Regions from separate parts of the Homo sapiens genome. Here regions 1 and 3 are each linked to region 2. The links come from fine-mapping of genetic effects on gene expression. A gene starts in region 2. Each other region holds a variant in brackets. All regions are shown on one strand. Distances are from middle to middle. Region 1 overlaps DOK2 (docking protein 2). Region 2 holds the start of GFRA2 (GDNF family receptor alpha 2). Region 3 has its middle 25 kb from the start of DOK2.

What was found.
Region 1: its variant is fine-mapped to the expression of GFRA2 in whole blood (INTERVAL, PIP above 0.99).
Region 3: its variant is fine-mapped to the expression of GFRA2 in whole blood (TOPMed, PIP 0.98).

The regions. Positions count from the first base shown.
Region 1 is chr8:21,901,549-21,909,717 of GRCh38, reverse strand. It overlaps DOK2 (docking protein 2), which reads left to right. Exons shown (of 5, transcript NM_003974.4): 5 at 1-845. The coding sequence ends at 407. Among named protein-coding and RNA genes, the nearest start is that of DOK2, 8.1 kb to the left of the region's middle. RefSeq lists an enhancer at 5,031-5,859. The variant T/C (reference allele first, on the strand shown) is at 3,836.
Region 2 is chr8:21,784,434-21,792,595 of GRCh38, reverse strand. GFRA2 (GDNF family receptor alpha 2) reads left to right here and starts at 3,721. Exons shown (of 9, transcript NM_001495.5): 1 at 3,721-4,476. The coding sequence starts at 4,437.
Region 3 is chr8:21,884,626-21,892,805 of GRCh38, reverse strand. No RefSeq gene overlaps it. Among named protein-coding and RNA genes, the nearest start is that of DOK2, 25 kb to the left of the region's middle. The variant C/T (reference allele first, on the strand shown) is at 4,267.

The DNA of each region.
Region 1 (8,169 bases), 120 kb before region 2:
TGCCGCCGCCTTCACCCACCACACCGGTGCCTGCTCCACGGCCTCGGGGCCAGGAGGGGGAGTATGCCGTGCCCTTCGATGCGGTGGCCCGTTCCTTGGGGAAGAACTTCAGGGGCATCTTGGCAGTCCCTCCTCAGCTCCTGGCCGACCCTCTGTACGACAGCATTGAGGAGACCCTGCCCCCTCGACCTGACCACATATACGATGAGCCCGAGGGAGTGGCTGCCCTGTCCCTCTATGACAGCCCGCAGGAGCCCCGGGGTGAGGCATGGAGGAGGCAGGCGACAGCTGACAGGGACCCTGCTGGCCTCCAGCATGTCCAGCCAGCCGGGCAGGATTTCTCTGCTTCTGGCTGGCAGCCAGGAACTGAGTATGACAATGTTGTACTAAAGAAAGGCCCAAAGTGACAGAGGCAGCAGAGGGATGGTCCACCGCCCCTTGGCTTCTGCTGGTGACTCCTCCTGGCCACTGCATCAGAAGAACCTCCTCTGCCCCTTCTGGAGCCCGAGGCCTGGCCTGTCTTCGTTGGGGCTGATAAATTGCCTCTCCCAGGGCCTGCTGGGTGAGTCACCATCCCAAAGCAGGAAGGGTGCCCTGGAGAGAACCACCCTCCTCCTACTCTTTTTCCACTTCCTCCTCTTTCTTTCCCCAGCTGAGGAGGAACCTGGGGCATTTAGGGCAGAGGACAAAAGGATGTCAGCAATTGCTTGGGCTGCTTGGCTATGCAAGCCTCCTGCCTGCTGATGGCCACTTCAGGGACAGCCTGGGCCCAGGCACCCAGGGGGATGGCGGCAGCTTCCTGCACCTTTCAGATTTCTTGGTGGCATTAAAGCATTTTCAGAACATTTCTGTGTGGCATGAATGCTGTGGGAGTGAAGTCTCCAACTGACCAACCTTGATCACATCCTCTCCCAGCTGCAAGATCCCCCTGGGGCCTAGGCTGAGCCCCAAGCATCTGCTCACAGAGGCCTCTAGAAGTCAGTCAGGGTGCCCTGGGAATAGTGTTCAAGTATGTCTCCCTTTTGCTGGGAGAAGGTCAATGTCAGAAAAATGGTGGGGGAAGCACGGGGGAGCGGGGGGCGAGCCAAAGTGCAAGGAAGGAAATAATTGGATTGATGGAGCCTCTTGTACACCAGGAGTGGGAGTCACCAGGTGTGTGGTCCTGGGCCCTTTCGCTTCCCTGAGATTTCTGCACATCTTCATAAAATGAGGGGGTTGCCCCATGTGGGCAAGGAGGAGCCATCCAGCTCTGTGATTCCCATTGGCTCTGGGTTCCTAGGTCCCCACACACCATTTCCCCACAGGTCAGCCTGTGTCCTTGTGCTTGCTCCTCTTATCAAAACCTGCTTTCCCAGTAGGGTGTGTCCATGGACTTCAGCTATCAACCCAGTCCGCCGACAGCATGGGCACTGTTTGTGGGAGGCTGTAGACTGCATGGCCTGTGAGAGACACACTGCCCAGAAGGGGATGAGATGAAACAAGGCACAGGTGTCTGTCACAGAGTGGGTGTGAGTGCCACAAGGGACCAGACAGGGCCATGAGTGCCAGAGAGGTAACTATTTGTTGGGAGCGCAAGAAAGGCTTCATATCAAAGGTACCATTTAAGGTGGGCATTTACGGGTGGGAAGGAGTTCCATGGAGATAAAGGGGGTGTGAAGGAGCATCTTGGATAGGAATGGGAGTGTAGGTGAAACCACGGGGAGGTACGGATGTGTTGCTTTCGGGACGGAGTTCTACGCTCAGAGTGCGGGTAAGGTGACACAATCTAGTTGGGAAGGCAGATTCTGACTGTATTAAGGGGAATTTGTACCTAATTAGAGGGAAAGGTGGAACGACTAAAGGCTTTTGAACAGGGAGTCCCATAAAAGCTGAGCTTTAGGGCAATAACCCGATAGCCCTGTGGAAGGTGGACTTGGGGTGGGAGGGGGTAGGTTGGGGCTGAATTGAAAAGGGGAAATTCTGCCAGGCACGGTGGCTTACACCTGCAATCCCAGCACTTTGGGAGGCCGAGGAGGGTTGATCATGAGGTCGGGAGTTCAACACCAGCCTGTCCAAGATGGTGAAACCCCATCTGTACTAAAAATACAAAAATTAGCTGGGCATGGTGGTGGGCACATGTAATCCCAGCTACTTGGGAGGCTGAGGCAGGAGAATTGCTTGCAGTGAGCTGAGATTGCACCACTGCACCCTACTGGGTGACAGAGCAGGACTCCGTCTCAAAAAAAAAAAAAAAAGAAAAAGAAAAAGAAAAAGAAAAGGGGAAATTCATCTGGGCACCGTGGCTCACACCTGTGATCCCAGCAACTTGGGAGGCCAAAGTGGGAGGATCACTTGAGCCCAGGAATTCGAAACCAACCTGGGCAACATAGTGATGAGACCGCGTCTCTATAAAAACAAACAAACCAACAAACAAACTTAGCCAGGTGTGGCGGTGCATACTTGTAGTCCCAGCTACTTGGGAGGCTGAGGCTGGAGAATCATTTAGCCTGTGCAACAGAGCAAGACCCTGGCTCAAGAAAAGTGGGAAAGGGAGAAGTTCAGAAAGGACTGGATTCAAAAGATGGTGTAGAGCTAGCACCTGTGGATCTTGGACTCATAGTGGATGTGGAACACAGAGAAAGAGGGTTTCTAGAGAGACTCGGGTTTTTTTTTGTTTGTTTGTTTTTCCTCCTGAGATAGAATCTCACTCTGTCACCTACGCTGGACTGTAGTGGTGTGATCTCGGCTCACTGAAATCTCAGCCTCCCGGGTTCAGCAATTCTCCCACCTCAGCCTCCCGAGTAGCTGGGACTGCAGGCGTGCACCACCACACCCGGCTAATTTTTTGTATTTTTAGTAGATATGGGGTTCCACCATGTTGGCCAGGCTGGTCTCAAACTCCTGACCTCAGGTAATCTGCCCACCTCAGCCTCCCAAAATGCTGGGATTACAGGTGTGAGCCACCACGCCAGGCTAATTTTTGTATTTTTTTTTAGTAGAGACGGGATTTCACCATGTTGGCCAGGCTGGTCTCAAACTCCTGACCTCAAGTGATCTGCCCACCTCGCCTCCTAAAGTGTTGGGATTACAGGCGTGAGCCACCGTGCCCGGCCTGAGACTCAGGATTTGGGAACAAGATGAACTTAGTTTCTGATGCGATGAGATGGAGATGGCTAGTATTGATCCGGCAAGACGAGTCCTGAAGCTGGGTGGGAGAGCTAGCGCTTAGGAGGGAGAGGGGCGTAGACTTAGACATGGACGTTGGCCTCCCAGGTGTGCTGTGACCTCTGTTTCTCCTCTCACCGTGGCCTTTTCCCTTGTTGAAGGAACTTGAGCAATGGATCAGCTGCTTGGAGAGACCCAGTGAGGGGCCTTCCTGTCTGTGTGGAAGGTGCCCCCTGGTACCCTCCCTTTCCAGCCTCTGGATCACTAAAGGCTGGAAGGCCCCACTTCCAAGGATTTTACTCTTCCCCCTCTTCAGGCCAGCAGTGGGAGTTGGGGTTTCTCTTTGGCAAGGTAGCCACGTTTCCGATTTCCTAAGGTGGCATTTGAAGTGGCTGTCCTGGCTTAGCCCGGCAGGGGGCGGTGTTAGCCTGTGGAAAAGGCCACTGGGGGGCTTTGCCACCACCAGCCTTGGGGGCTTGGCCCTGAAGGAAGGCATTTACTACCCGAAGGGCTTGGGGATAATCTGAGGAATCTGCATGTCAGAGCTTGTCCCTTCAGAGCCTCAGAATCCCACTCCCAGATGTGTGGACCCTGCCTTCAAGAAGTTTGGGGTCCTAAGCTGGACATTGCCCTTTCGTCCCCTCTCGCCACTTTCCAGATCTAGGGACTTGGGTTCTTCCATACTAATGCT[T/C]TCTGTGCCATGCAAGGGGAAGTGGTTGATTAGGGCCCTTGGGAAAGGTGGGGTGAGGGCTGGAGGGACAGGGGAAGTAGCTTTTGGGGAAGTTGGGAGGGGTAATGAAAGTCCTTAAGACAGTTGTTGAGAAAATGCTGATCATGCCATCAGGGTCGCTCTCAGAAGATTTGATCCAAGGGGTGTGCCACCCTCCAGAGAATGGTGTCAGTGCCACTACAGCCAGCCTCAGCTGCGCCATGGTCATCTGTAATGTGTACCTTCCTTCATTCAACAAATGTCATGGGCCAGGCATGGTGGCTCATGCCTGTAATTTCAGTGCTTTGGGAGGCCGAGGTGGGAGGATTGCCTGAGCCCAGCAGTTTGAGACCAGTCTGGACAACATAGGGAAACTCTATCTCTACAGAAAAATTAAAAATTAGCTGAGTATGGTGGTGCTTGTTTGTAGCCCCAGCTACTTGGGAGGCTGAGGTGGGAATACTGCTTGAGCCCAGGAGGTTGAGGCTGTAGTGAGCTGTGATTGAGCCACTGCACAGCAGCCTGGGGGACAGAGTGAGACCCTATCTCAAAAACAAAAACAACAAAAAAGCAAATGCCCTGGAGCATCTGTCATGGACCAGTCCCGCCTAGGAGCTGGGGAGCAGCACAGACCCATCCCACCCTCGAGGGGCCTACAGTGTGGAGTGGGCAGGCAGATGTTCACTGAACACAGGAATGAAGGAGCTTGCTTGAGGGATCACCCTTCTCAAACAGACACACGGTGGTGAGGGCCTCCTTGGAGGGTTCTTTTCTTTCTTTCTTTTCTTTTTTTTTGAGATGGAGTTTCGCTCTTGTAGCCCAAGCTGGAGTGCAACAGTAAGATCTCGGCTCACTGCAACCTCCACATCCCAGGTTCAAGCAATTCTCCTGCCTCTGCCTCCTGGGTAGCTGGGATTACAGGCACCCGCCACCACACCTGGCTAATTTTTTGTATTTTTAGTAGAGACGGGATTTTACCATGTTGGCCGGGCTGGGCTGGAACTCCTGCCTTCAGGTGATCCACCTGCCTCGGCCTCCCAAAGTGCTGGGATTACAGACGTGAGCCACCACGCCGGGCCTCCTTGGAGGGTTTCTATGCCACCAGGATGCTCAGGGGCAAATTCATATGTAAGGAAACAGCTGCCCTCAAAAGGGGACAGGGCAATGTCACAGCAAGTGATTGATCCACCCAGAAGGGCCTCTTGAAGGCTCCAAGGTCCGAAGTCAGACAGCTGTTGACACCATGAGGTTTGCTGTGACCAGGATTCTTATAAACTGGTTTCATTGCTAGTTATTATGCAGAGGTGACATCGGGGCAGGTAAGGATGGCTGCATGACTGGCATCTAGCATAGAGATGTGCGCACGCAGCACACAACATCATTTTTCCCGTTCCTTTTCTGCTCTGCTTCTCTTGCCTCCCCTTGGATTTTCTTTTTCCAAAGCAGAGAAGTGGGGTGTGTGTGTGTGTGTGTGTGTGTGTGTGTGTGTGTGTTGGCCTGTGGTCCATGGTGTAAGCCTGTGACAGTGGGGGTGGCCAGGCCGCCCCCCACTCCCCACCTCGTGAGTTCTCCCCCTGGAGCTTCAGAATCTACAAAGGCCCAGCTCCTTGGCTCTCTCTGCTCCCGCAGGCTCCTCCCTGACGACTCCAGTCAAGTTTTTGCTGTCACTGCCTTTCATCCGTGATGCTAACCAGCCTCCTGCCTCCTGCCTCGTGGGTGCAGACTCAATTAGCCAAGGTGCCCACAGCCTGCAAGGGCCATTTATAAAACCAGCTGGGGTGGCTGGAGACCTCAGGCAGGACAGGGCTGGGAAGTAAGTGCGGGAGGTCCGTGAGCTGTGAGGAGGAGGGAGAGGAGCCAGAGGAGCTGGGAGGGGGTATCTGATCTGATTAGGCCTCAAGCTGGTTTCCCCATGGCAGGAGGCTGTTCATCATTGCCCTGCTCCCATCTTCAGCTCCCGGGCGGATCCAATGCCGGCCAGCATGGAGCAGAACCCATCAATCTCCAGGCTCTGGCCAGGCCTGCTTCTCTCCTCCTTGCCTCCCTGCCACCTCTGGAACCCTGTGCTTTTTTTTTTTTTTTTTTTTTTTTTTTTTTTTGATGGAGTTTTGCTCTTGTTGTCCAGGCTGGAGTGCAATGGCATGATTTTGACTCACCGCAACCTCTGCCTCCTGGGTTCAAGTGATTCTCCTGCCTCAGCCTCCCGAGTAGCTGGGATTACGGGCATGCACCACCACGCTCGGCTAATTTTGTATTTTTGGTAGAGATGGGGTTTCACCATGTTGGTCAGGCTGATCTCGAACTCCTGACCTCAGGTTGTCCACCCACCTCGGCCTTCCAAAGTGCTGGGATTACAGGCGTGAGCCATCGCGCCCGGCCTGCTTTTTATTTTTTTGAGACAGGGTCTCGCTTTGTCACACAGGCTGGAGTGCAGTGGTGTGATCTCGGCTCACTGCAACTTTGACCTCCGGGGCTCAGGTGATCCTCCTACCTCAGCCTCCCAAGTAGCTGGGGCTACAGGACAGACCTGCCAACCATACTCAGCTATGCACCACACCCAGCTAATTTTTTGTATTTTTTTGTAGCGACGGGGTTTTTCCATGTTGCCCAGGCTGGTCTCAAACTCCTGAGCTCAAGCCATTCACCAGCTTCAGCCTCCCAAAATGCTGGGATTATAGGTGTGAGGCACTATACCTGGTCAGAACCCTCTTCTTGACTCTAGCTCCTGGATCCCTGAGCCAGAGATGGCTGGTCGGGGGCGGAGTAGGGCAACAGACTGGGAAGCACTGGGTTCTGACAGACTTGTGAGGGAGATGGGGTCTCAGTGCTCTGCTAAGTAATTCGGGGACCTGCATCCAGGGCGGGGTTGGCCTTGTGCGTCCAGGTGTTTGATCGGGGAGGGGTGGGTGGGGTGGAGTGAAAGGTGTGCCGGAGGGGGCGCCAGCATTTAGGATGATAAGAATGTTCTTGAGTTTATACAGCGCTTTCTGTTTCCAAACTGCTTTGGGGGCAGTTGAGCGTGGACTGTTAAGCACACAGACCATAGCCTGACTATCTGGGTCCAGATTCTGCTTCTGCAACTTGCTAGCTGTGTCTCTGGGTAGCTGCATCTGTTTCCACATGTGAAAAATGGAGATGATGATAATATGTGTCTTGAAGGCTTGTGGTGAGGATGAAATTGAGTGAATAAATGCCCAGCTCGGAGAAGAGTGCCTGCCACACACAGAGCTCCGGGATTATCCATGATCTCATTTCACCTTCAACAGCTCTGCCAGGTGGGCAAGGCAAGAAATCCCTGTCTTACCAACAAGGCAATGGAGGCATAGAGGAGCAGAGACCTCCTTGTCTTTGGAGGGTGAACTGAGGCTTTGCGGGTGGAAGGACTTGGTTGGGAAGGAGCTAGGCTTTTGATAGGAAAGCACAAAAGCGGAAGAGTATTTCAGGAGAGGTGAAGAGAGCAGCATGAATAGCTTTTCAGCTGCTGGACATGGGGGCTTTAGCGGGGGCAAATTTGCACACCAGGGCAGAGCAATGCTCGAGTGGCCTATTATGCCCAGGAATGGGGGAGCCGGGAAGGGAAGATGCTTCGTAGACTAGAAGACCTTTGGCTTCAGGCAAGGCTGGAGAACAGGCAGCCACAGCGGGGGCTTTCCTCCTTTCATCTGAGCTGCCACATCCATGCACGGTGCAGCAGGTGGCTCATCGGGGTGCAGAGGCAGGTTCCTTGCTGGGCAGAAGTACCTGGTTCATTTGGCAGGGCTCACCAACTGATGTGATCAATGCAGACCCCTGGGGCCGCTGCCCTGCAGCCAGCCAGAGGAGCCCTGGGAACAGTAACAGTTCTGAGAGGAGGAAGCTGGGGAGGGGGTGGGCAGAAAGGAGCCAAGAGAACATTCAGAAGGAGTTTGCCATCTCTCCTACTAGACTGCAAATGTTCAAAGGGCAGGGTTCATACTTTACCCAGTCCATTGTTCTATCCTTGACACTTAACACAATGCCTGGCACTAGGTAGGTACAAATAACTGTTTCTTGATTGGAAAAATAAACGAAGCCCACTTTGCCTTTGAGGAACACAGGTGATCTCCAGTGTGTAATGAGCTGTGGTGCTCTGGAGGACTCTCTCTCCATAAATACACCCCTACAGATGCCAAGAATCCCACCATTTACATTTTGGGAAGAGTGCCTTCCCTCTCCTAGCAGGCTTCTTTTAAAATGCAGATGCCGTGGGGTGAGGCATCACTGGAGTGAATGAGGTCTCCAGGGCCCCCAGAGGGTGAGAATGGTCTAGAGCAGGACCTGCAGTTGGGGCCTGCTTG
Region 2 (8,162 bases):
TTGTTTTTTTCAGTATCTTCTCATAGCTACACGCTTGACTCTATAAATGCTTTCAGGGGAGGGGCAGTCTTGCTGTATTCCCCACAGCCGTTGGCCCTGCTGGGGCCAGAGAAGTCGTTCAATAAGTCTGTGCTGATGGATTGATTGTGGGGTGCCCTGGATCAGGCTCTGTCCCATGGCAGAGGACACTTCCACCTTGCCAGTTCTGTGGCTCCTGACAGTATTAGCTGGATGTGAGGCACCTTCTTTTCACTCCTGGTCGATTTTTATCTCTGGGGTCAGGGAACCCTCAGCCTTCTTCCCTTCACAAAGGAATAAGATTGTGGTCAGTGAGCAGTGTGGCCCAGGCCTAGGTGCGCATGTGTGCGTGTGTTGGGGTGGGGCTGCAACGCCCTCCCCTCCACTGGTCCTTCTTCCCTCTCCTGCTATCCAGAGAACCCACTCCATAAGCAGAGAGGACTAGAGAGATAAGAGAAAGGGAAGGAATGGAAGGATTCGGTGTTGCCTTTCCCTCCCCATGCAGATTTGGACTCTAGGATCTGTGATGGGGAGGGGCTGTGGGCAGGAGGCTCAGCTGCTGGTGAACTCAGGAGCACTGGAATGAGCCAGGAAGGCTGTAAAAGGACTCAGGCACTACGGAATGTGTGGAAGTCTGTTGGTGAGCCTAGGGCTTGCCTCCTACCTGCTAGAGACTTCACATTTTCCTATGACTACCTCTTACGACAGCTGCTTAATAGTCTCTGTTGCCCTTGAACCCCTGTAGCTTTTTGTTTCTGCTTCTCATTTGCCCCTTAGGTTTTATTGCCTTGTCATAGGTCCCTAATTCTTCTTCTAGAACCCAGAGCAAAGCAGTAAACAACTTTATATGGGCCAGGCATTGTACTAGCCGCTTTGTGTAGTATCTTATGTAATTTCTACAACGTTGGTTTATCTTTTTTAATCCCCATTTTATAGATGAGATGACTGAGGTTCAGAAGTCCTCTTATCTATAAGGTGTTATAGTACATGTTCAACTGTGTTTCCTCTGTAGATCCCGGCACAAGGCAGGGGGTCTTCCTCATGGCAGATGCTCAGGAAATAAGGGATGATGCCATTTTTAAGAGCAGTTTGGGTTGAGTGTTGGGGTGGGCAGAGGGTGGGGTGTCATGGGATACGTCTGTATAGGCAGTAGGTAAGAGAGGGTCCAAGGTCAGAGTGCCCTGCAGTCACACAAGCTGAATGCTGGTGGTGACTGATTGGTGTTCTCTACTGTTCTTGGGATGGCTGGGTGGTCTTGGGTCGCAGAAGGGCCACTTACCTCCTGCTACCGGAATCCTCTTTCCTACTCCCGTGGGAGCTCAGTGAGAACCATCCCCAGGGCTTCATTGCTGCTTTCTCAGCCCCATTTTCTGGATAGGTGGGAGGGGAGAACTACATATATGATTCAGAGAATTTCTCTCATTATGCTCAAATGAAGTTAAAAGAAAGTGAAATTCTTTTTTGTGGGGAAGGGGAGAGGGATATGCTGAGCAGAAATTCTGGAGTTTGGAGCAGGGTCCTTGGAAGGGGGAAGGCCTGCGTGAGATTCCGAAATGGGTGGTGGTGGGGAGTATTTGGACAACCAGAAGACCCTGGAAGTCGAGGAGATGAGAGGGGGGACATTCATTTAGGCCAGGCTCCCAGCCTCGGGCCTCCAGGCCAAGCCTGCCTGGCAGTGTAATTCCTGTCAAGTTTTATCTTTTAACCTACACTTATCCAAAGCCGGTTCCTTATGCTCCCCAATTTTTGGAAAAAAAGCCAAGAGACCTTGTCAGATGCGAAGTCACTTCCTAGAACATGAGAGGCTTGGAGGAATGACAGGGAGGGCAGGCCTGAAGGGGGCTTTCCCCAACTCCAATCCCTAAGCCCTCTGTCCCAGACTCGTCACTACCCAGCTAGGGCCTAGGCTCGAAGCAGGCACAACTGGATGGCTGGGGGAGAAGATGGAGGGAGGAAGGTCGATGCCCCAGGACGGACCACAGGAAAGAGGCGTTCACAGGAGACTCGCTCTCTGTGCTTCCAAGGCCGGGAGCAGCCGCCTTCCCGCCTAAATCCTCAAGATGGAAGTTGCTCCCTCTAGCTTTCCCAATAGCTAAGGCTGCTGGTTTTGTTAGTGACCCCTCCCTTCTCGTCCAAGTCGATTTCTAGCATTTACTGGATTCCAGAGTCTTGTTATTTAAGAATGCATCTTAAACGGTACTATCAAATTCATGTTACGTGCAGCCCAGATTGTTTTGGGCAGCACGAAAAGTTTCTGAGGCGCTGCGTGTACCCCACCCCAGGACACCGTGTGTGCGCGCCGAGCTGAGTGCGAGGAACGTGGCGCGAGGGCCGGGGGATGCCGGGCTGCGTGGGTGTGAGCCCTCGCGCGACCGCGACCCCGCGCCTCTCCCGCTCTCGCCGGAACGTGACCGCAGCCGCACCTCTCCTCCAGCCCTTTCCCAGCCAGACGCTTCCTTTTAGGTCCTTCTGGGCGTTTATTGTAAATTCTGCGACTAAAACACGCCGGTGAGCCCGGCCCACCGACAGATGGATCAATCGCCCCCTTCCCGGCTAGGGGAGGAGGAACCCCCCAACCCCGGAGCCTAGGGAGCCGGGAGCTGCCTCGGGACGAGCTCCTCGGAGCCCAGCCGGCTGCGGAGCCCCGGCCCGGGTCGGTCTCGGGGCCCTCCTGCCGGGGTGGGGTGCGAGCCCCTGCCCGATTCCTCTGGGGCGGTTCAGGCAGGTTTGCCGGCCTCCGAGGAGGTGGTCAGGGCGCCCTGGCCCAGCAGGCTTCTTCCCGAGCCGGGGGGAGGGGAGACCGGCTGGGGAAGGGGCATCTCGAAGGGGTGGAGGCCGGGGCGGGCGGGAGGCAAGCGCGCCGCGGGCGTGAGGGCAAAGTTCCCGAGGTCCGCGCGGAGAGCACACGTGTATGTGCGCGCGGGGCTAGGCCGGGGCCGGCAGGATGCGTTGGGTTCGGGGGCGCGCGGGGCCGGCGCCGAAGGGGATAATTCCTTTCCCTGGCACCATCGGGGAGACGCTTTGTCGGCCTCGGCTCCTGGGCGCAGGGACGCCTTAGCCCACGGAGGGTGGAGCCCCCCTCAGACCCGGGCCACCGGCTGGGGTTTTTCTAACGCCCTGCCCCCCGAGCCCCCGGATGGCTCGGGCCCCACGGACTCCGCGCCCTCCAGCCTCAGCTCAGCTCCCCAGGCTTCCCAGACCCAGCGGCGCAGGGGGCGGGGGCAGGGGCAGTGGGGGTTGGAGGGCGCAGCCGGTCCCCAGGGTGGGGAGAGCTGCGGGGGGAGGAGGAGGAGGGTGCCGACGCTTGAGTGGGTTCGAGCCCGAGCCGTAGCCGGGGGAGCCAGTCAGTTTCCGGCCAAGGCAGCAGGTCAGTCCCAGGAAGGGCGGGCGATTGAGCCGAGGGAGCCGGCGGCTGGGCTCTCCTCTCGGCCCGCGATCCCCGGCGCCGCCGCCGCCGCCACCGCCACCGCCACCGCCTTCGCCTTGTCGCCGCCGCCGCTGCAGAGCATCGTAGCTCCGCCGCGCTCCCGCGCCCCGCGCCCCGCGCCGCCAGCCGCCTGGGAGCCCGAGCGCCGAGCCCGGGGCGGAGGAGAGGGGCGCTGGCGCGAGAGCCCGGGCGAGGGAGCCGCGAAGGGAGAAGGGGGCGGGCGGAGGGAGGAGCAGGGAGAGTGGGAGAAGGGGGAGGGAGAGAGGAGAGCGAGGGAGAGCTGGAGAGAGCGAGAGCAAAGAGCGAGCGAGGGAGAGGAGAGAGAGAGAGAGGAGAGAGAAAGACACACGCACGCAGAGACACACGGTCACTGGAATTCCATTAGAAAAAAGTGAGCCGAGCAAGGGTTAGCGGGAGAAGATTTTTTTGAATCTTGTCTTCGTCTTGGTGCGAAAGAAGCGACTCCAGTCTCTCGTCCTCGAAGCTCCGACTGGATTGTTCTTGGGCGCTGACACCCGTCTGTGGATTTCTTTTCTATTTGCATTTTATTCCGACCCCCTCCCTCGCCGCTTCCTTCCAGCCCTTCACTCGCAAATCGCCTCTCTCCCCACCTCCCCAGGCCCCTCCTGGGAAGCGCAGGGGAATTGGACCCGCGGGGACTCACGCCTTCCCGGACGATTGGAGGGGAGGGCTGACCCCAGGACTGGGCTGTTGGCTTAGAAAGCCGATACACAGATACGCGTATATTTGATTGTAGCGGGCAAGGGGGGCGTCGAGAGGCAGCAGCCCATCGCCCGCCTCTCACCCCACCCCCTCCAGCCAGAGGCGAGAATCGCAGGACTCGGGATCTTCATCGGGTGGACTAGCTGGGATCTCCGCATTGGATTTGGGGCTGATTACCACTGCTTGCCTATTATTATTGTTGTTGTTACTACTATTATTTTTTTTTACCCAAGGGAGAAAGACAAAAAAACGGTGGGATTTATTTAACATGATCTTGGCAAACGTCTTCTGCCTCTTCTTCTTTCTAGGTGAGTACCTGCGGGCGGCGAGCTCGAGGGGGAGGCGAGAAGCCGGGGAGGCGGGGGGCGAGCGGAGCGCCGGTGGGGGGCTGGCGGGAGGTCGGCGGGGAGAGCGCGCCGCGGAGCTAGCCGGGCCCGGTGCTGGCGAACCGAGCGGGGCCGGGCGGCAGGGACGCGGACGAGGGACCGGAGCCGCGGCTGGCTGGCGACGCAGGGGGATCGGGAGGGAGACTCAACATCCGAACCAGCCCCGCAGACACTGTGCACGCACACACACACCCGCGCTCGCTCACACGCCAGTATAGCGCGCATCTCCCCCGAAATAATGGGTTCGAATTGCGGCAACTTAAGAAAAAAAAATATCCAACTCTTGATCTGCAAGAAGGGAGGGAGAGAGAGGCTCCTAGGCGGGGAGAGAACAGTCCTGCGGGGTCCGCCTTTCCTGGTCTGCTCCCCGAGTCGGTCGTGGTGGAGGGCGCGGGTTTCTCCGGCGGCTCCCGCTTGGACATCGCGCGGGGAGCGCTGGCAGTCACTCCCCACCTGCCAGCCGCGCCTGGCAAACGGAGCCCGCGTCCCCACGCCCTGAGCCCCTAACCGGCGGCTCCACTCCCCGGAACACTTTTCAAGTTTCTCCCCACCGAGCCCCGAGCCAGATGGGTGGGCGGGAGCGGAGGGTTGTGAGCAGCCGTTCCCGGCCTTCCCTCCTCCACCTCTGGGGGCCGCGGACCCCCGTGGCTGGTGGGAAGAGGCGGGAGGGAGGCCAAAGTTTGCTTTCTCCGTTGAAGAGGGTGGGAGGCGAGGGAGGAAAAACGGGTCTGAACAAAGACCACTGCTCCTTCTGCAAACCCCCCCCACTGCCCCCCCCGCCGCCTCCAAGACAGGGAGGAGAGGCTGCCTGGCGCCACTGAGCCCCACGCAGTTTCTTTTCCACACAGAATTCCCAGCTCCTCTCTCCCTTTAAAGCTAGGTGAAATCGCAGCTGCTTGGGAAATGGCAATCTCCGGAGGGAGGTGAGGAAAGGCGGTTGTTTGCAAGGCTGTGCACCACCGGGAGTCCCAGGCAGGGCTGCTGCCAGGGAGTAGACGCTCCCATAGAGGGAGCCGGGTAACTACTGTGTATGTGTGTGTGTGTGTGAGTGTGTTTGTAAGGAGCACACGTCTGCTTCAGTGAGGGTGTAGTTCTACCACCTTGGCTTGCTGTGTAGCCAGTGTTGAGCCAGGCTGCCCAGCGGGGTCATGATCTCACCCTCTCCCTCCTGCAGTAGGGGATCTGGGAAGGCCACGAGTGGGGAGGTAGGAGCTGGTTACAGGAGGATGTGCGTGGTCTAAGAAGTGCTCGCCAGACTAGGATAGGGGACCGGAGTCATTGGGTGTCCACACAGGCTCTGGACTCTCTGCCTGTCCCCTCTGCTTCCCGCCAGGTGCGAGTCCCCAAGGGGGCAAGTCCCTGCTCTAGGGTGTGGCCTCAGAGGTCCTACCTCCCTCAGCCAGAGGCAGCTTCTCTCTGGGGTGGGAGGGGCTCCTCTAGGAAGCTGGAAGTTGCTCTGGGCCCGCTGTGATCCCGAAGCCCTTCCTGTCAACCCTGGCAAGTGGACTCTCATTCTGAAGGGGCTACTATAAAATCTGACCTTTTTCTCCCACTGCTAGCTTGAAAACCCAGCCTTCTGGGTCCAAGCATGATCAGGGCCAAGGTGAAAAAAAAATTGTATTTCAGGCAAAACAGCCAGATTGCCTACTGCTGAGCTGCATACCCCAGCATGGGCAGGGCTCCCAGGTGTGGGCACCATCTGTGGTCGGGGGCTGGAGAAGAGCAGTGTGGGCCCCTGGTCATTGCAGGCAGGCTTTCTCCAGCCGGGCAGGCTAAGGAGTCCACCTTTCTCCTTTTCAGAAGTGGCTGGGGTTCCTGCTCGTGGTGGGTGTGTATGTGTGTGCATGGGAGATGACCAGAGAGGCCCAACCCAATGTCTGCAACCCTGGAGGCTGAGTGTTGAGAGGCGGGGGTGAGAGCAGAAGAGCAGCAGGCTCAGCATCCCCTTGCTCCACAGCCCTTCAGTTTCCTTCCCTCGAGAAGTCCCCTTCTAAAGCTGGGCTGAGTGGAGTGACCACAGATACTGAAAGGCTTTGGGTTAGGCCAGTGGAAAGGAAGGGATGGGTTGGTGTTTAGGAAACTTCAGCCCTGGGGCCCTTTTCCTGGCAGGAAGCTGGTTGAAAATCCCACTGGGTGGGTGGGTGGAGGGTCGGGGGAGGTTTTTCTGGGGCTTGAGACTTGGTGGGCAATTTCAGCTGGGGGCAAAGGCCTTTGGTGTGCCCCTACTGAGATTCTGAGTGAGGTCTGGGCTGGATAACCCATGGTGGAGAGAGAGGCCTTTCTTGCCCAGTATCTTGACCTCCAGTGCTGACCCAGGGAGAGAAGGAGAAGGGGAAAGTGACTCGGGTGGGGGTGTTGGGCTGGCCAGAGGGGGCCACTTCCGACTGACTTTCTAGCACACATTCTAGCTCTGGTGGGATGTTGGATGCAGTAGGGCAATTGTAGCCCTGTGTCGCTTCTCCACCCCCCTCTACCCCTGTGTCTCTAGCAGCTACTCCCTGTGTCTTGATGGATCAAAGTTTTCTCCTAATTTAGGATTTGGAAACATCACCAGGACACCCCCTGCCCTTCACTCTCTTAGGATTCTTAGCTAAAGGCTGCAGGCTGCAGGGATTCCTTTCTCTGGCTGGGCTTGATTGGTTCTGGGGGTCATGGAATGAACTAGAAGAGTCAAGGATGGTTTGGTGAATGGATGCCCCGGCCCTTCGCAGAGTGTGTCTGTTGCCTGGCCACACGTGCCAGGTGGCAGGATGGGGGAAGCCCTCAGTTCTGGCACGGGAGCCTCCCTAAGATTGTGTAAGGATCATCCTGTGGGGCTCTAGGCCCAACTGTAGGACAAGCAAAAAAAGCGTCCTTATGCCCTGAATCCCCTGGGCTAATCTTCTGACCTTTAAGCACGCGGTGAATTCTGTGCCTACAGAAGGCTAAGGAAGCCAGGAAGTTCCATTTCCAGGCCCCCATGACAGTGCAGCCTTCAGTTCAGTCAAGGTGGGAGGGCATTAGCCTATGGGGAGGCGGGGTGGTTAAGTCAGTGGAGGGCCCAGGGTTATATTCTTCCAGAGGCTCCCACGGGCTGGCTGGGGGCCGCAGGTACAGGCGGGGCCGTGTCAACTCAGCTGCTCTTGGGGGGCCCGGCTGTACGCGGGTCCTGCTCAGGGAGGTAGGAATCTGCTGAAGCCGGGGAAGAAAGACGCTGCCTCAGCTTGTGTGGAGGACAGCTCTCCAGCCAGTGCCGGGCCTCAAACTCCGGTCTGATTTCTTCTCTGGTCTTGTCTCAGCCTGGCCACATCCATCAGCCTTCCTGTTCTGTGGCAGAGGTCTGGTCAGTGGGAGAAGGGCACGTCTTTTGCTCTGGGCCCCGAAGAAGCCTTCTGTACCCCAGGCCCATCCCTGCTGTTCTTCTCTGTTGTCCCCTAGGGATGGGTCTCCTGGCTGGTCCCACCGGGAGTGGATGGATTCCTGTTCTCTGGGGGCTCTCGGGAGCGAAGGCCCGCTGTGCAGCGCGCTGCCTTTAGGTGTCGCTGTCTCCCTGCGGTAGCGCTCCCCTGAGCAGGGCCTCCCGGGGGATGGCCTGAGAGTGGCTGTTCTGGGTAGGGATGGGGAATTCT
Region 3 (8,180 bases), 100 kb before region 2:
AAGGGACGGGAAGGGCTGGAAGGATCCTGGTGATGATCTGCCCCAATCCCTTTCTTTACTGGTAGCAAAACAGGCCTAGAGCAGGAAAGAGGATTTTTCCAGATCCCACAGCTACAGAGGGAGGACCAGAAACCTGGCCCCCAGGACTCTCAGTGCAGTCTTACCCTGTGGTTCTAGTAAAAGAATAACAATAGCAATTGCTTACTGAGCATTTGATCATGCCAGACGTTTACTGTTCTAAATGCATCCTATGTGTTAACTCGTTAATTTTCACAAAAACCCCTTGAGGTAGGGATAATGGCTATTACGTCCCCATTTTCCAGATGGGGAGCCTGAGACATGACACTTCAGCAACTTATTGAAGGTCACAGAGCTTCTATGTGGGCAGCAGGGATTTGGAAACCCTGCAGTTTGCTCTGGGGTCAGTGCTCTTACCCTTGGAGGTGACGTGGACTGCTGGGGTCTACTGATTTCCTGGCTAAGGTAGGGTGTGGCCCAGTGGCCCCTGTCTGAGCAGGGTTCTGGCCTGTGTGAGCTCTTCTCACTCCCAGAACCCTTCATGCTCCCCGACAGTCCTGTCAATTCTCCAGTGCTCCTGTTGCTTAAGACTTTTTTTTTTTTTTTCTGAGATGGAGTTTCGCTCTTGTTGCCCAGGCTGGAGTGCAATGGCGCGATCTCGGCTCACTGCAACCTCTGCCTCTTGGGTTCAAGCAATTCTCCTGTCTCAGCCTCCTGAGTAGCTGGAATTACAGGCATGCACCACCACGCCCGGCTAATTTTGTATTTTTAGTAGAGATGGGGTTTCTCCACGTTGATCAGGCTGGTCTTGAACTCCCGACCTCAGGTGATCCTCCCGCCTTGGCCTCCCAAAGTGTTGGGATTACAGGCGTGAGCCACTGAGCCCGGCCGCTTATGGCTTTTTGTAGATCCTCGGGGAGCGATGTGATGGCAGCTGAATACTGGTGAACAACTGGCTCTGGGTGTGGGAGATGGGAATGCTATCACATGTAGCATTTACTGATTTCCATGGTGTAAATATTCCCACCGTGGCCTATTTCAAGCTATCAATGGGATGTCAATTGGCTTACAAAACTCCTAAAAGATCTTGCAGTCGGCTCTCAGTACAGGCAGACTGTAGTATACCACTGTGACAGCCTCCCCACTTTGCAATACTGCCTGAAGACCCCCTAATCCCTTCCCATTGCTGCCTCACTCACCGCCTCTGATTAGACTGCATTCACATAAACGGGTATGATTTGAACATTCTCATCTTGGGAGGTCTGAAAACGGTTTTATTTCCTCTGCTCAAAAAGAAATAATAATAAAAGACTCATGGAGTGCTTCCCACTGTAATCATTTCCTGGAAGGGACTTTGGTGATTTAGTTCAAATCCTGGCTTTACAGATATGGAAAGTCCGCCCATAAAGAGTCTTCTCCAGGGAAAGAGTCAAGGGACTTGACCAGAGGCAGACAGCCAGTAACTCACAGAGCCACAGCAAGAAACCAGGGCTAGGGACCCATGGTCCCCTGGCTCACTCTTTTGCTACATCTTAGCGCCGTTCTAGGTTCATGGGGACGATTTGAAGGCAGATAAGAAATGCACCACTCAATTGGGAATATCCCAAACATAAAACAATCAGAAAAAAATGCAAGATGGTATTTCGCCCCTGCCATACCAGCCTAGGCTTTAAGCCAGTATCTTAAATGCTTCGAGTCTTAGCTCTATCATTTTAAAATGCAGATATTATTAATACTTACCTCACATTTCTCACTGGGGGATTGCGAAGATAAAGGAGATAAACGGCTAGCAAAGTACATTTAGGGTAAGGAAATACAAATAGCTCTTAAATGTATATAAGCACGCTGAACCTCATTGAAAATAAGAGAAATGTAAATTAAAATTACACCAATAAGCAACTTTTTCACCTATCCAATTGGAGAAAGTCCAGGAAGTTGGTAACACAGTTATAGTGGAGTTGTAAGGAAATAGATAGTCTCCTATCTCTCATGGGAAGATAAATGTGTATAACCTCTAGGGAGGGCAGTTTGGCAATATCTATCCACGGTTTAAATGTACATATCTTCTGACCTAGCAATCCATTTCTGGGAAATTGTCCTATAAATACATTTGCGTAAGTGCAAAGGATTTGTTTATGGCTACTTGTTACAGAATGTTTGTGATGGGAAAATATTGAAAAGAACGTAAATGCTGGGTAAGAGGGTTCTCTTTAAGATATTTTGTTTTCCCACACAATGGAGTATTATGCAGCTATAAAAAGGAAGGAGACAGAAAGCTTTGTACTTGTGTATAAGACATACCATCAAATGAAGAAAAGCAAGGCACAGAACAGTGTGTATAGATAGCATGCTACATTTTGTGTTTAAAAAGCAGAGAGGCCAGGTGCAGTGGCTCACACCTATAATCCCAGCACTTTGGGAGGCTGAGGAGGGAAGATCGTTTAAGGCCAGAAATTGGAGACCAGCCTGGGCAATGTAGTGGGATTCCATCTCCAAAAAAATAAAATAAAATAAAAAGAGGGGAAATAGAAATATTTACTCATGCATACAGAATGAAACTCTAGAAGGATCTCTGAGGAAGTAAAAACAGTGGTTACCTGTGGGTGCCGAGGCTGGGGTCGGGAAGGATAGGAGATGAGAGTAACAGGGAGACTCTTAACTGCCTTTTAATACAGATTTCTAAATTTTGAGCCATGTCAGTGTACTAACAATTCAAAAATGTAAACTAAACATTCCTTTGTAAACTGCAAAGCACTGTGCAGATGCTAGTTACTTGAACTATTACTAATATAAAAATGAGCTAAATTGTATGGCTAAGATTACAGTCTGTAGGAGGCCAAAAGGAGAATGCTTGTGGGTTCTGGAGGGGCAGAAGTTAGAGTGGGGATCTCAAAAGAAAAGTGGTCCTCGGTGTTTTACTAGAAAGTGATGGTCAGAATGCAGTGGTGGGCCAGGTGTTGGTGGCCATGACTGCTTCTCCTGCCCAGCTCGATCACTGTGATGGCTGCCTGTCACAGCTGAACTGTCTCACGCATGACATGCAGCTTGTTTGGGTGATGGTGCTGAGACTCCACAGTTTGCCCAGGAGTGCTGGCTCCAAAGCTCTGGCAGCTGTGCTGAGCTGAAGAGCTGTTACCATTAAGTCTCCTGTTGGGCATGAGTGTGTGTGGCTGCTGCACCCTGATTAACCCATCTGATCCTCTCACAATGCATTCAGGCAGGTGCTGTGATGGTCTCCTTTTCACAGATGATAAAACTGAGGCACAGAAGAGTCAAACACTTGACCCAAAGATCAGCAGTTGGTGGTGACTCTAGGCAGCCGGGCTGGGGAGCGATCCTCTCAACCACCACACACCACCACCTCCCCCACGTGCTTTCCCTTTCTCCCACTGTGCCTGGATTAGGGTACCACCGGGGATCCAAAGGGAGCCTCCTGACTTGCTGTTAGGTGGAAAGCAAGCATCACTAGTCAGGGGGGACCCCTTTGTCTCTGCAGGGTCTCACGTAGGGCAGGCACAGCGTAGGGCAAATCTGTGACTGCTCAGCCCATTGGGCTGTCTGCCTTTGGGACACAAATCCTGCTATTTCACCTCTTCTCTCTGAAGGGCATTAGAGCACCACCTTCACCCCATCCCTGGGCCTCTTGACATCCCAGAGGCAAATCCTAGCAGACAGAGGCCTCTTGTCAATTAGAGGAAGGCAAGGGCTTTGCTATCTGTGGAGGGATCGGGAGAGGTGGGGGTGCTGGCAAAGTGAGAGCATCATGTCTCCAATTAAAGTTCTGAGGATTCATCTTCTAACTCAGCCCCCTTCAGAAATTGACATTTATTAGGTTGTCAAAGCTGATTTTTCTTCTTGGCCCTTTCCTGTCGCCAACTGTGTTTGTGTGTGTGTGTGTGTGTGTGTGTGTGTGTGTGTGTGTATACACGGACATGAATGTAAATAAATACCTATATTTTGCTTTTCAAAAATTAAAAATGCAGTATTTATCCCTATCAGAGATATGATTTCCTGATTCCTGATGGAATGGAAGGCCACCCAAGGGGTCAGGGCAGGCCTCGTGGGGCCCGAGGGGGTCTGAGACAGCGGTAGGCCTACCATCTGGAGGTGAAGCCGGCCTCATGCAGAGGCAGCAGTTACTGGTTGCTGACTGTGTGATTTTACAACTGCCTCACCCAACCATCCTAAAAAATCTCTCTCCCCCACATGCCACTAAACCTGGAATTTCACTTTTGGGGGCTCATTCCT[C/T]TGAATTTATTCATCTTTTTACTAAAGTCTTTTTTAAAGTGTAATGTGAGTCCCTAAGAGGGGAACACATTAAATTGCTAACATCCCAGAAGCATAGAATTCTGAGCAAAAAGATACCCTGTTGTCTTATCTTCTCTTGTAGAGAGGAAACTGAAGTCTAGAGAGACTAAGGGATTTGCCCAAAGTCACTCATCACGTTAGTGACAATGATGGGGCTGTCACTGAGTTCTCTAACTGCAAGCTCAGTGGAGGCTAGTTTATCAGATTTGCTTTCCTTTTCTTTTCCTCTCTCTCTCTTTCTCCCTTTCTCTCTCCTTCCTTCCCTCCCTCCCTCGCTCTTTCTTTCTTTCTCTCTTTTTTCTTTCTTTCATTCTCTTTCTTTCTTTCTTTCTTTCTTTGTCCTTCCTTCCTTCCTTCCCTCCCTCCCTCCCTCCCTCGCTCTTTCTCTCTCTTTCTTTCTCTCTTTTTTTCTTTCATTCTTTTTCTTTCCTTCTTTCTTTCTTTCTTTCTTTCTTTCTTTCTTTCTTTCTTTCTTTGTCCTTCCTTCCTTCCTTCTTTCCTTTCTCTTTCTTTCTTTTTCTTTCTTTCTTTCCTTCCTTCTTTCTTTCTCTCTCTCCTTCTTTCTCTTTCTCTCTCTCTTTCTTTCATTTCACTCTGTTGTCCAGGCTGGAGTGTAGTGGTGCAGTCATAGCTCAATGCAGCCTTGGAACTCCCTGGCTCCACAATCCTCCTCCTATCTCAATCTCCTGAGCAGCTAGGACTTGCAGGTATGTGCCACCGTGTCTGGCTAATTTTAAAATTTTTGGTAGAGAGAGGTCTCCTTGTGCTTCCCAGGCTGGTCTTGAACTCCTGGGCTAAAGTGATCCTCCAGCCTTGGCCTCCTAAAGCGCTGAGATTACAGGTGTGAGCCACAGTGCCCGGCCATATCGGTTTTCTTTGGAGACAGGAAGAAGCCTGGCTGGATGCAGGTCCTGGGCCTCCAGGTGAGGGAAGGCAAATGAGAAGGGGAGAAGACGGGAAAAAGGTAAGACCAATGTGCAAATAATTTTGCCCACTTTGTACTTTTTCTAATCATTGTATATGTTGTCATTTTCATTTTAATCTTTTGCATTTATGATCTGGGACATGAAAGGAAGAGGCGCAGTGGCTATCTGGTCTTGGATTTCTTCAAGATGGCATATGAAAAACTTTAGTTACCTTCCCCACATTCACTATTTTTGCCATGTTTTCTCGCCAGTTCTATTAATGTGACATAATATTTTTTCATTAAATTAACTCATTTTTAAACTTGGTTTATTTCTTTGAAAAGGAAATTTGTTTTACTGTTGTGCAAGGAAAACCTGTTATCACTTGTTAGAAATCGATGGTAATCATACAAATACATACAATGGAATCCAAACAAGGTTATTAAAATTTAGTTTGGTGCCTCTCTTGCTGAAAGCTCTTAGCCTGTGGACTGTTTTCTCTTTGCAAAAAGGAAAATTAGCAAGTATCAGAAAGGCATGAAAAACCCGCAAGCCCCCAAGTGAGACTTCCTCCCTGAGGTCATTAGGGTCTGTATTGGCTTCCCAGGTTTGCCATGGACTGGGTGGCTTGAAACTACAAACATTTGTTGTCTCACAGTTCTAGACACTAGAATTCTAAAATCCAAGTGTCAGCAGGCCATCACTTTCTGAGAACCGTAGGAGAGAATCCCTCCTTGGCTGTCACAGCTTCTGGTGTTTGGTTGACAATTCTGTGTGTTCCTTGGCTCGCAGCCCCTTAGCTGGAATCTCTGCCTTCCTGGTCACGAGCTCTCCTTGAGTGCTTTTGTCTTCACAGGGCTCTCCTCTCATTATAAGGACAATGGGCCTATTGGCTTAGGGGTCTACCTATTCCAGTCTGGCTTCACCTTAACTAATGACATCTGCAACAATCCTATAATATTTCCAAATAAAGTCATATTCTGAGTATTAGGGGTTAGGATTTCAACCTCTGTTTTTGCGGGGGACCCAATTCAACCCATGACAGGGTGTTTGAAAAAGCATTGAAAAGGGAGAACTTTTTCATGGTGTGGACAATGCCACTGAATGCCTGTCCAAGGGCCACCAGTGAGACCTGACTCCTTGGGGAAATACTGCATTATGGGGCTACGAGGAGGCTGTGAGCTCCCCTCATCTCTCAGAGGCAAGTGGCATCCTTCGGGCCTAAATGGGCCTTTGGTAACTTGGTTCTGGGGCCAGTAGGTGCCCTGAAGTGGGGGTGGGTGCACTTGAGGAGGAGCAAACAGCCCCTCATTGACCACAAAATCAACACCGCAGAGATTCTTTACAAGCAGCCAACATTTACTGAGATCCTTTTGGGGACAAAGACTCCTGTGTCCCTGGTTGTCTGCTCTCTTCAGTGTCTGGTCTCACAGGCTCGTCACTGGCAGCACAGGCAGAAGAACAAAGGGAAAGGGTGGGCCAGGTGTGGGGACTGGGGAGGAGGAGGAAATTCTGTACTCCTGAGACAGTGGGGCAGCTGCAGCTCCAGGAGGACCATGTCAGAGGGACAGGCAGGCCCTTGTTGAGCACGTTCATGAACAGAAGCAGCAGAAGTCCCTGTTCTCCTAGAGCTGTGCTAGGGTCGGGGGAGGGGAAGCAGATGATATGCCAGGTGGTGAGAGTGATAAGAAGAAAAATAAACCAGGCTGAGGGGAGAGAGAACATTCCCTGCGGAGTGAGCGGCGAGTGGACAGGAGGAGCACCTCACGCTTCCCTTGCAACAGGGGAGGAGGCCGGCGAGGCTGGGGCAGAGTGGACGAGAGGAAAGAGGCAGGAAAGGAATGGAGAGGCAGGGGGTCCTGGCAGTCCCACCTGGGTAAGAATGATTTATTCCATATTAAATGCCTAGGCAAGAGTTTGAGTAGAGAAGCCAGGAATCTGACTTATTTTTTTTCCATTATTTTATTGTAATAAAATATGCACAACATACAATGTACCATCCTGACTTTTTTTTTTTTTTTTTTTTTTGAGACTAAGTGTCGCTCAGTCACCCAGGCTGGAGTGCAGTGGCACAATCTCGGGTCACTGCAACCTCCGCCTTCTGGGTTCAAGCAATTCTCCTCCCTCAGTGTCCCGAGTAGCTGGGACTACAGGCACGTGCCACCATGCCCAGCTAATTTTTGTATTTTTAGTAGAGACAGGGTTTCACCATGTTGGCCAGGCTGGCCTTGAATTCCTGACCACAAGTGATTTACCTGCCTCAGCCTCCCAAAGTGCTGGGATTATAGGCATGAGCCACTGCGCCCAGCCCATCCTGACCATTTTCAAGTGTTCAGTTCGGTGGTATTAAATACATTCATAATGCCCAGCAGTCACCACCATCCATCTCCATTACTCTTTCCATCATATCAAACTGAATCTCAGTACCCATTAAGCAACAACTCCCATTTCCTTCCCTCCAGCTGCTGGTAATCATCATTCTACTGTTTGTCTCTGTGAATTGACTTCTGTAGGGACCTCATATAAGTGGAATCATACAGTATTTGTCCTTTTGCATCTGGCTTATTTGACTTGGCATAATGTCTTCAAGGTTCATCAATGTCATGGCATATGTCAGGATTTCCTTTTTTGAAAATTTTATTTTTAGAGACAGGGTCTCACTCTGTCACTCAGGCTGGAGTGCAGTGGTGCAATCATAGCTCACTGCAATCTCGACCTTCTGGGCTCAAGCCATCCTCCCACCCCAGCCTCCTGAGTAGCTGGGACTTACAGGTGCACACCAGGCTAATTAAGAAAAAAAACTTTTTAGAGATGGGGTCTCACTGTGTTGTCCAATCTGGTCTTGAACTCTTGGGCTCAAGCAGTCTTCCAGCCTTGGCCTCCGAAAGTGCTGGGAGATGTGATCCACAGCACACAGCCCAGAATTTCCTTTCTTTTTTTCTTTTCTTT